Linked DNA regions of Homo sapiens: region 1 is linked to region 2. The links come from fine-mapping of genetic effects on gene expression. A gene starts in region 2. The other region holds a variant in brackets. All regions are shown on one strand. Distances are from middle to middle. Region 1 overlaps COA8 (cytochrome c oxidase assembly factor 8). Region 2 holds the start of COA8 (cytochrome c oxidase assembly factor 8).

Evidence for each region. PIP is the estimated chance that this variant, and not a neighbour inherited with it, causes the effect.
Region 1: its variant is the best candidate, but not a certain one, in a credible set for the expression of COA8 in whole blood (TOPMed, PIP 0.88).

Annotation. Positions count from the first base shown.
Region 1 is chr14:103,581,358-103,586,728 of GRCh38, forward strand. All of the region lies in intron 3 of COA8 (cytochrome c oxidase assembly factor 8), which reads left to right. Among named protein-coding and RNA genes, the nearest start is that of COA8, 21 kb to the left of the region's middle. The variant A/G (reference allele first, on the strand shown) is at 2,663.
Region 2 is chr14:103,560,101-103,565,471 of GRCh38, forward strand. It overlaps COA8 (cytochrome c oxidase assembly factor 8), which reads left to right and starts at 2,860. Exons shown (of 5, transcript NM_001370595.2): 1 at 2,860-3,024. The coding sequence starts at 2,902. BAG5 (BAG cochaperone 5) reads right to left here and starts at 2,557. Exons shown (of 2, transcript NM_001015048.3): 1 at 2,516-2,557; 2 at 1-1,092. The coding sequence starts at 1,064. RefSeq lists enhancers at 1,162-1,675, 1,775-1,824 and a silencer at 2,165-2,814.

The DNA.
Region 1 (5,371 bases), 21 kb after region 2:
CGACGACAGTGGATCTGATCACCGAGACGGCTGCTGAGTAACTAACGAGTGGGGCGCGTCTACACTGTGGAGGTGCTGGACAGAGGGAGGAGTCGCCTCCTGGGCTGGTCGGAGTAGGACCTTGGGAGGTTTCATCACGCTACTCAGAACAGCATGCAGTTCAAAACTTATGACTTGTTCATTTCTGGAATTTTCCATTTAATATTTTCAGACCCCACTTTACCTCGGGTAACTGAAACCATGGAAAGAAAAACCATGGATGGAGGGGACAGCTGTGCTGCCGCCATCTCCCTTACACAGTTGAGTAAACCGAGGCACAGAAGAAAATGAAGTAGCCCCAGATGACGTAGGAAATGGCAGAACTGAAGGGAAAAGCAGAGCAGGGGGCTGTAGAGTTAAACTGTTCTTCATTCCGGTGGCACTAGACCTGCCCGGGCGGCCAGAGGACACGTGGCTCCTGTCCTGTCTGCCGTGTGGCTAGGGGACAGCCGTGCTTGTGCTGTGCCGTCTGAGTGTTTGTTTCTGTCTGTGGGAATAAAGGGGTTGCCAGACACCCTCCCTGCTCTGTGGAGGGAGGGTGGAATCATGCCTTTGGCCACTTTGCCCACTCCCCCTTGGGCCGGAGCATCAGCATTAGCTGTGCCACAGGGTGGTATGCGCTCTGCTGAAGGTGGCACCTTCAGGGAAAGGCAGTCTGCCGGGGAGGCTAGCGAGCACCCTGGGTAGGAGCTGAGCGTGGCCTCCGCGCCTCCTCATGGGAAGTGCTGGAGATGCAGGAGCCCCTGAGCCAGAGCCCAGCGCTCTTACAAGAGACCTCACTTCCTGTTCGGGGACTGGGGCTGCTAAGTCAGAGTGCGCCTCCTGCACCCGCCACCCTGGATGTGGTTCCATTCCCTGGTCCCTGAGCCATAGCTGGGGGGCATGAGACTGTCCCCTGGGCTGCTTTGGGGACCCTACTTCAGGGCAGCCCTGCCACTCCCTGTAACGGGCTGTGGGTCCTGCCCTGTGGCCTTCCTACCTCTCTTGCGTGTGGGTGAGCCTGAGCGTGGCCACCGCCCTGGGAGTGCCACAGAGGCAAGCGGCACTGGTCCTCATGTGTAAACAGCCCCACCAGCACGCGGGGCTGGAGTAGTCAGGCCGGGACCTGTCCCAGGAATGGGCAGGCTGTTAACCTAGGATGCATTCAAGTTAGGACACATTTCATTCCCGTGTAGCGGTGGCTCCCAGTTCCTCCGCAGAACCTGCAGGAGTGTGCGTGATGAAACCCGTCACTCGTTGTGTATGGTAGACATACCTGCCTGGGTCGTAATCACTTGTGAAGAAAATGAATTATGCTGTGACCTTTAGATACGATTCACATACCATAAAATTCACCCTGCCTTTTTTTTTTTTTTTTGAGATGGAGTCTCCTTGTCGTGCCCTGCCTAAATTCACCCTTTTAAACTGTATAATTCCATGGCTTTTAGTAGTCACAAGATTGTACAACTACATCACTAATTCTGAACATTTTCATCACCTCAAGAAGAAACCCCACACCCATTAGCCAGTCTCAATTCCTGCCTCACCTAACCCCGGCAGCCCACTTTATATCTCTGGATTTGCCTATTCTGAACATTTCCAGATAAATGGAATCATACAATATGTGGTCTTTTGTGTCTGCCTTTTTTTCACTTAGGTTCATAATGTTTTCAAGATTTATTTATATTGTCTCATGTATTAGCACTTTGGAGATTTTTTTAATGGCTGTATAATATTCTATACGGATATACCATGTTTTGTTTATCCACTTACTAGTTGATGAACATTTGGATTATTTCTACCCTTTGGCTATTATGAATTATGCTACTGTGAATAATCCTGTGTATACCTACAGGTGAACTGCTGAGTTAAGAGTCTTTTTGGCCTGGCGCGGTGGCTCACGCCTGTAATCCCAGCTCTTTGGGAGGCCAAGGTGGGCGGATCACTTGAGGTCAGGAGTTCATGACCAGCCTGGCCAACATGGTGAAACCCGATCTCTACTAAAAATACAAAAAATTAGCTGGGTGTGGTGGCGGGCGCCTGTAATCCCAGCTACTCGGGAGGCTGAAGCAGGAGAATTTGCTGGAACCCGGGAGGTGGAGGTTGCAGTGAGCCGAGATTGTGCCATTGCACTCCAGCCTGGGCAACAGAGCAAGACTCGATCTCAAAAAAAAAAAAAAAAAAAAAAAAAGAGTCTTTTTTCCTCCTGAGACCAAATACCTGGTGTCTTCTCTAATTCCACTTCTCCAACTCCTCAACACCAGCTATAGGTGTCCAGCAATTCAGTTCAATTCTGACACTGTCTACTTGGAGTTCATGTCTGATGCCACAGGTTAAAGACCCAGTCCCACAAGATTGCCTCCACTGAGGCAGTCTTTCTCTTTGGATAAATTCCTGTTTACATCCTTTGCCGGTTGCCAGTCCTGGGCCACTTGTCCCTCTGCCTGACAGGCTATAAATCAGACTATGACCCCCTCCACAGGATTGATAATTTGCTAGAATGGATCACAACATTCAGAAAGGTGTTTTACTTACTCTTAGCGGTTTATTATTAAGGATACAACTCAGGGACAGCCAGATAGCAGAGATGCACATGGCAAGGTATGGGGGCATGCGGAGCCCCTGCGCCCTCTCTGGGCATGCC[A/G]TCCTCCCAGCACCTTTTGTTTGTTTGTTTGTTTTTTTGAGCAGGTCTCACTCTGTCGCCCAGGCTGAGTGCAGTGGCATGATCATGGCTCACTGCAGCGTCAGCCTCCTGGGCTCAAGCAACCCTCCCTCGGCCCCACAAAGCACTGGGATAACAGGCGTGAGCCACCGTGCCTGGCCTCCCAGCACCTCAATATGTTCAGTAGCCCGGATGCTCTCTGAACCCCATGGTTTAGGGATTTTTATGGAGGTCTCATGAGGTAGGCATGGTTGATTAAATCATTGGCCGTTGGTAATTAGCTCAATCTCTACTCCCTCTCCTTTCCCCAAAACTGAAAGTTTTGAGCTTCCAATCAAGGCTTGGTCTTTCCGGCCCCCATCCCGAAGCAGTACAGGAGCCCACCAGAGCTGCCCCATTCGAACAGGAGCAGCTGCTATCACCCTTCATCACTCAGGAGATTCTGAGGTTTTAGGAGCTCTGTGCCAGGAACAGGGGACAAAGACCAAATACCTCTCTATAATGCCACGTGGGTCTTATGATCACGAACTCTGTGTTTAACTTTTTCAGGAATTACAAAGCTGTTTTTCAGAGTGGCCTGACCTATTTTTTTATTTCCACCAGCAATGTATGAGAGTTCTAATTTCTCTACATCCTTGTCAACACTTGTTATTGTCTGTGTTTAATAATAGCTATCCTAGCGGGTGTGACGTGGCATGCCTTTGTCTTTCTGATTTCCCGTGGTGTTGAGCATCTTGTCATGTGCTTATTGGTTGTTCGTGTATCTTTTTTGGAGAAATTCCTGTTTAAATCCTTTGCCCATTTTAAAAGTGGATGATTTGGCCAGGTGCAGTGGCTCACTCCTGTAATCCCAGCACTCTGGGAGGCCAAGGCGGGCGGATCATGAAGTCAGGAGTTCAAGACCAGTCTGACCGATGTGGTGAAACCCCGTCTTTACTAGAAATACAAAAATTAGCCAGGTATGGTGGTGCGTGCCTGTAATCCCAGCTACTCAGGAGGCTGAGGCAGGAGAATCGCTTGAACCCAGAAGGCAGAGTTTGCAGTGAGCCGAGATTGCGCCACTGCACTCCAGCCTGGGTGACAGAGCAAGACTCTGTCTCTAAATAAATAAATAAATAGGATGATTTGTCTTTTTGTTGCTGAGATAAAAAGAGTTCTTGGCCAGGCGCGGTGGCTCACGCCTGTAATACCAGCACTTTGGGAGGCCAAGGCGGGTGGATCACCTGAGGTTGGGAGTTCGAGACCAGCCTGACCAACATGGAGAAACCCGTCTCTACTAAAACTACAAAAAATTAGCTGGGCGTGGTGGCACATACCTGTAATCCCAGCTACTCGGGAGGCTGAGGCAGGAGAATTGCTTGAACCTGGCAGGTGGAGGTTGTGGTGAGCCGAGATCGTACCATTGCACTCCAGCCTGGGCAACAAAAGCGAAACTCCGTCTCAAAAAAAAAAAAAAAGTTATTTACATATTCTCGATACTAGACCTTTATTAGATGGATGATTAGCAAATGTTTTTCTCCCGTTCTATAGGTTTTTTCTCTTTTTTTTTTTTTTTTTGAAACAGAGTCTCGCTCTGTCGCCAGGCTGGAGTGCAGTGGTGTGAACTCGGCTCACTGCAACCTCCACCTCCCGGGTTCAAGCAATTCTCCTGCCTCAGCCTCCCGAGTAACTGGGACTACAGACGCACGCCACTACACCCGGCTAATTTTTGTACTTTTAGTAGAGACGGGGTTTCACCATGTTGGCCAGGATGGTCTCGATCTCCTCACCTTGTGATCCACTTGCCTCGGCCTCCCAAAGTGCTGGGATTACAGGCGTGAGCCACCATGCCCGGCCCGGCCCTTTTTTGTTGTTTTTTGTTTTTTTTTGTTTTGTTTTTGGAGACGGAGTTTCGCTGTTGTTGCCCAGGCTGGAGTGCAATGGCACGATCTCGGCTCATTGCAACCTCCACCTCCTGAGTTCAAGCAATTCTCCTACCTCAGCCTCCTGAGTAGCTGGGATTACAGGTGCCTGCTACCATGCCCGGCTAATTTTTGTATTTTTAGTAGAGACGGTGTTTCAGCACGTTGGCCAGGCTGGTCTCGAACTCCTGACCTCAGGTGATCCACCCACCTCAGCCTCCCAAAGTGCTGAGATTATAGGCGTGAGCCACTGCACCTGGCCTTTTTTTTTTTTTTTTTTTTTTAACGAGACAGGGTCTGGCTCTGTTGCCCAGGCTGGAGTGCAGTGGTATGATCATGGCTCACTGCAACCTTGAACTCCTGGGCTCAGGTGACCCTCCTTCCCCGGCCTCTTGAGTAGCTAAGACTACAGGCATGTACCACCATACCTAGCTAATTTTTTTATTTTTTGGAGAGATGAGGTCTTATTATGTTGCCCAGGCTGGTCTTGAACTCCTGGTCCCAAGTGATCCTCCTGCCTCAGCTTCCCAAGTAGCTGGGACTACAGACGTGCACCACCACGCCCAGCTAATTTTTGTATTTTTAGTAGAGATGAGGTTTTACCATGTTGGCCAGAATGGTCTCTATCTCTTGATCTTCTGATCGGCCCAGCCCGGCCTCCCAAAGTGCTGGAATTACAGGCATGAGCTATCACGCCTGGCCTTTTTTTTTTTTGATTCGGAGTTTTACTCTTTTGCCCAGGCTGGAGTGAAGTGGCATGATCTGGGCTCATTGTAACCTCTGCCACCCC
Region 2 (5,371 bases):
CTTTTCTCAAGGGCCTCCTTCAAGTCAATATATGTGATCAGAGTTTGCACCTCGATCACTGCTCTTCTCCTGGCTTCCCGGATGCAGGGGTTTTTTTCAAGACTTACCTCATCCAACTGTCCAATTAAACCCTGCAATTCTGTTTTGGAGCTCAGGTACAATTCAGAAGGGTTTTGTGCTTGGAGAAGTTCATTTTTTATTTCTCTCATTCTCTTGAGGACCTTTTCTATTTTTAAAATGGAATGATTCTGTCTCAGGTCAAATGCTTTAGTTGTGTCTGCTTCCTCTTCCAAATCCAGATATTTCAATAATTTGTTGATATCTTCTACTACCTCCCTCCGATAATTTCTGATTTCTGTCCGGCCGCACACATCTAGAGCATCCAGGTCAGCGATCAGCCCCGAGAGCACACAGGATAAGTGCCTGCAGGTCTCATTGTTGTTCACACCCATCAGAAGTGCAATCAGGACCCCTCGGGCCTTGTTCACCTCACACATCACGAAGTTGATTTTGGCAACGGAAGGATGTGCATCCTCGGAAAGCGGCAGGGAAGGCTGCTTTTTCATGCAGTCTTCGATTATCTCTTGCACCGCACAGATTTTGGTTAAAGTGTGATACCTTGCTTTCCGCAAGGAGATTTTTCCTCCAGTTTTAACATGTGTCAGCCTCAGAATGATATCTTGGATGCCTTCTTCAAACTCATCAGTTACGCAGTTGCCTCCATTATAAAATGGCACAATTTTCTCTCTCACGAGGGACTGGGCTTCCTCAAAAATGTTCTGTATTTCAATCCGGTGTGGGTGGTTTGCATTCTGCTCCAACTCTTTGAGAAGACGTTCTGTCTCCTGTGCTGCCCGCTTCCTAGCTTGCTGAATATCTCCTTTTCCTTCAGTATCTACAGAGTCTATTTCAAAAAGCTGTTTTGTTAGAATCCTCTCCAGTTTCTTGTAATTCTTGTCATCTGACAGACCACTGAAGCCGATAACTTGCTGTTCTACACTTTTTACTTCCTTTTGGATTTCCTGAAGCCTACTAATAGAAGGATGTTGGTTTCCCATATCCATACTTTTGTTGTGTTCAGTTTCACAAGCACTAAAAGACGACAAGAATGATAACTTACTACAGCACAAGGCTTCTGCAGAACACTAATGGTATATTAAGTCATTCTAAAATTCTCATTTTAAAAAGGTATACTTCTGAGCAGTCATCCCACCTCAGCCTCCCCAGTAGCTGGGTCTACAGTCGTACACCACTACGCCCAGCTAATGTTATTTTTAGTAGAGACAGGTCTCACTATATTGCCCAGGCTGGTCTCAGACGATCCGCCCGCCTCCGCCTCCCAAAGTGCTGGGATTAAGGTGTGAGTCACCGTACGCGACACAAACTATTTGGAACCAGCAGGGCACCTTTATGAAAGGTGAAACAGTAGCTCTTGTAACCTTCCGAACACTAACAGTACCCCGCCCCGCCACACAGCTATGCCTAGTTTCCAGAAACTCTAAGCAAAAGAAAGAACCAGAACAAAAACCAGTGGCTCTCAGACATCCCCAAGGTCCCCGCTTCTTCGTTTCTCTCCATCCCTTTGTGCACTTCCCCTCCCCACCCTTTTAGCTCCTCACACATCTTCCCTCACAGAAGTCTCCCTGAAGAGATTAAAACCCCACAGGTAAAGAAGAGCGACCGGGACAGCGCTGAAGGGCACCACCTTGGGCTTTCGAGGCCCAACACCTCCTCAGCCCCCAACATGCTCCACTCTCTCAAAAAAAAACAACCCGCGAAAACGTGGTAACTATGAATAATTCATTCACTCGCCTCCCACTGGGAGTCCACAATGGCCTAATGCACGTTTCAAGCTCTTGGTTTCTATCAAACGGCTCGCTCAAGGTGGGTAACCAATGGAAACGCATAATCTATCCCCGGCGGATGTCCTGGAGGCCACGGAGGGAAGGCGGCCCGAGCTGCTTCCTCCCCGCCTCGCCCTTCCCTCTTGGCCCTTTACCCAAAAGAAGTCTGAATTGGATGCGGTCTTGGCGTCCCGTGGCTGAGGTGGCGAGGTGGAAGATCAGCCCTTTACGGGGTGCGGCACCGGAGCTGGGCCCCCAGCTGCATGCCTCGCACCCCTCCCGACTAGGTCTGAGCGGGGCAGCCGGTGAAGGGGCCGCTACTGGCTGCAGCAGCCGCTCCGGGCGTCTTGGCCCGGGTGCCAGGGCGCGCCTGCAGGACGTGACCTCACAATGGGCGCGCGAGGGGAGCTCGGCCCGGCCGGGGGAAGCCGGGGGAGGAGGGGAACCGAGGCCCGGCCGGAGACACCAGAGACCAGGCCCGGCCAGCCCCGGTCGCTTCCGACCCCAGGGGCGGGGACAGCGCCGAGACCGACTCTGCCCTGCCTGATCCGACAGGCCGCACGGGGCTGGGCGCTGGCGAAGGGGTGGCCCAGCGGGGAGCCCCGCGCGGAGGTGGTGCCCCACTCGTCCCCCCGAGAGAGGGAAAAGGCTACAAGCCGCGCTTCGCTCACCTGTCCCGCCCGCGCCATCGCGCGATGCGTCGCCGACGCTTCCACGACTTCCGCAGCTCCGGCAGTCGCCCGGGCCCGGCAGCCCCGCCCCTGGCCGAACACCCCTAAACCCGGGGACACCTCCTCCGGCGTCCGCGCCTAGCCGCCGGCAGCGCCACGCCCACCGCCAGCGGCGCAGCGAGGCAGCCTGGAGTGACCGCGACCAAGGAGCGGCCGCCCGGGTCAGCCCGCGCCGCCCGCCGCCCCCTCACCCCGTCGCACCGCTGGGAAAGCGCACGGTCGGCCGCGCCGCCGCGCTTCCTCGGGCTTCGCGACCCTGCCGTAAAGCGGCCCCTCGCGCCGTCGCAATGCTGCCGTGCGCCGCGGGAGCCAGGGGGCGTGGGGCCATGGTGGTCTTGCGGGCGGGGAAGAAGACCTTTCTCCCCCCTCTCTGCCGCGCCTTCGCCTGCCGCGGCTGTCAACTCGCTCCGGAGCGCGGCGCCGAGCGCAGGGATACGGCGCCCAGCGGGGTAAGCAGGGGCCTGGGGACATTGGGCCGGGAGGGGTGACCGGAAGGGAAGACAAACCCGGGCCTCGGGGCCACTCCCTGTTCTGCACAGCCGCCTCAGGCCTTTGTCCAGGTGCTCTCGCGTCCTATCCCGAACAGTCCCGCAGCCCCGAGGCTCCCGCATCAACGCCCTCAGTCGGATGGGACTGAGGGTGCCGCCGCCACCACGCCGGGGACTGTTGACAGCCAGAACCTTTAAGCGTAACAGAGTCACCTGGCAAGTTTGTACCTACCTTATTTGTTCCCGAGAATGATTATTTTTTATTTTTAAAGAGCTCTTGGCTTACCGTGCGTTTTTTTTCGTTGTGTGTGTGTGTGTTTTGGCTTTGTTACAATTATTAGTGCTTTTCTTCAAGCGGCGAGCACTTTATCATCGTACTTTTGTAGCACTTCACGTTGAATAGTTGTTATTTGCAAACTATGTGTGGGTATATGCATGTTACTGGCCAAAGATCCGCAAAGAATGTCTGTAGCAAGAATGTCTGTGGCAAGCAATTTTTATAAGTGGTACTTTTGGGAGGGATGTTTTGTTTAAGGGAGGCCTAGGCCTTGATTCCGTCTGTCAGATGAAAATGTTGACTAACGGTGTGGAATGGGCTGGAGATAAAATATTCAAGCAAAGCATGCAAATACCAAACAGGCTAATGAAGGAGGCTGGAAAACTTGGTTTAAACAATAATTAAAGAAGTATTAAAAAAGTGTTAATTAAAAATTGGACGGGCTCCGTGGCTCACGCTTGTAATCCCAGCACTTTGGGAGGCCGAGGCAAGCGGATCACGAAATCAAGAGGTGAGACCATCCTGCCCAACATGGTGAAACGTCTCTGCTAAAAATACAGAAATTAGCTGGGCATAGTGGCGCGCGCCTGTAGACCCAGCTACTCGGGAGGATGAGGCAGGAAAATCGCTTGAACCCGGGAGACGGAGGTTGCTGTGAGTCGAGATCGCGCCACTGCACTCCAGCCTGGCGACAGAGGGAGACTTCATCTCAAAAAAAAAAAAGCTAATTAAAAATTGCAAATGTACTTGCTTGTACATTTTCATTTCTGTTGGGCTGTGGCTGTTAGTACACTTTCATAATTGTAGCTTTGAAGGTCTATCTAGTTTACAATTTAAACAAGGAGTTACCAGGGCAACTTGCCAACCAGACACCCAAGTGGCTAGCTCAGTTCTGTGTTACAGTGACCAAGTCCTTGCCTTCTATCCCTAGAACATAGAAACCCACCCAGCATCTCTATCTTTGGGCAGAAAGATAGAGCAGGTGTCTGAAAATGCTCTAAGAGAGCAAACGGGAAATCAACCAAGACATTTCCCGGGCGGGGGGGATTTTCCCTAGCTTATTTTGTGAACTTGTGCTGGAAAGAAACAACAGCACCCAAATAAGGATTTCTCTATTGTCATATACACTTCTTTTTTTTTTTTTTTTTTTTTTTTTTGAGTTGGAGTCTCCCTCTGTCGCCCAGGTGGGAGTACAGTGGCGTGATCTCAGCTCACTGCAACCTCTGCCTCCCGGGCTCAAGCGATTCTCGTGCCTCAGCCTTCCGAGTAGCTGGGACTACAGGGGCCCACCACCATGCCCGGCTAATTTTTTTGTATTTTTAGTAGAGACAGGGTTTCACCTGTTGGCCAGGCTGGTTTCAAACTCCTGACCTCAAGTGATGCGCCTGCCTGGGCCTCCCAAAGTGCTAGGATTACAAGTGTGAGCCACCACTCTCAGCCTTAGACTTCTTGTTAAAGTAAAATAAATCTTACCATGGGTCTGTTCTCAAGATGAGAGACCTCTCTGCCTTGTTCGTTTTTTCTTTTTTCGAGATGGAGTTTTTGCTCTGTTGCCCAGGCTGGAGTGCAATGGCGCAGTCTCGGCTCACTGCAACCTTTGCCTACTGGGTTCAAGCAATTCTCCTGCCGCAGCCTCCTGAGTATAGCTGGGATCACAGGCGCATGCTGCCACGCCTGGTTAATTTTTTTTTCTTTTTTTAGTAGAGATGGGGTTTCACTATGCTGGCCAGGCAGGTCTCGAACTCCTGACTTCAGGTGATCCACCCGCCTTGGCCTCCCAAAGTGCTGAGATTATAAGTGTGAGCCACCATGCCCAGCCAGCACCAGCTTTTAATTGAAAAATATTATAGAACTTAAGAGTCAGGCACCATTCTTCCTTCCAAATCCATCTTTAAAACTCAGCTTTTCAGAAATATAACTGCTTTTGGTAAAGAAAAAAAAATTAAGACTTTTAAATTCTGTTCCCTAGCCACTTCATGCCTGCTTATGTCTTACCTATGTAGTTTGCATCATTGGTTCCTAAACTTGTTT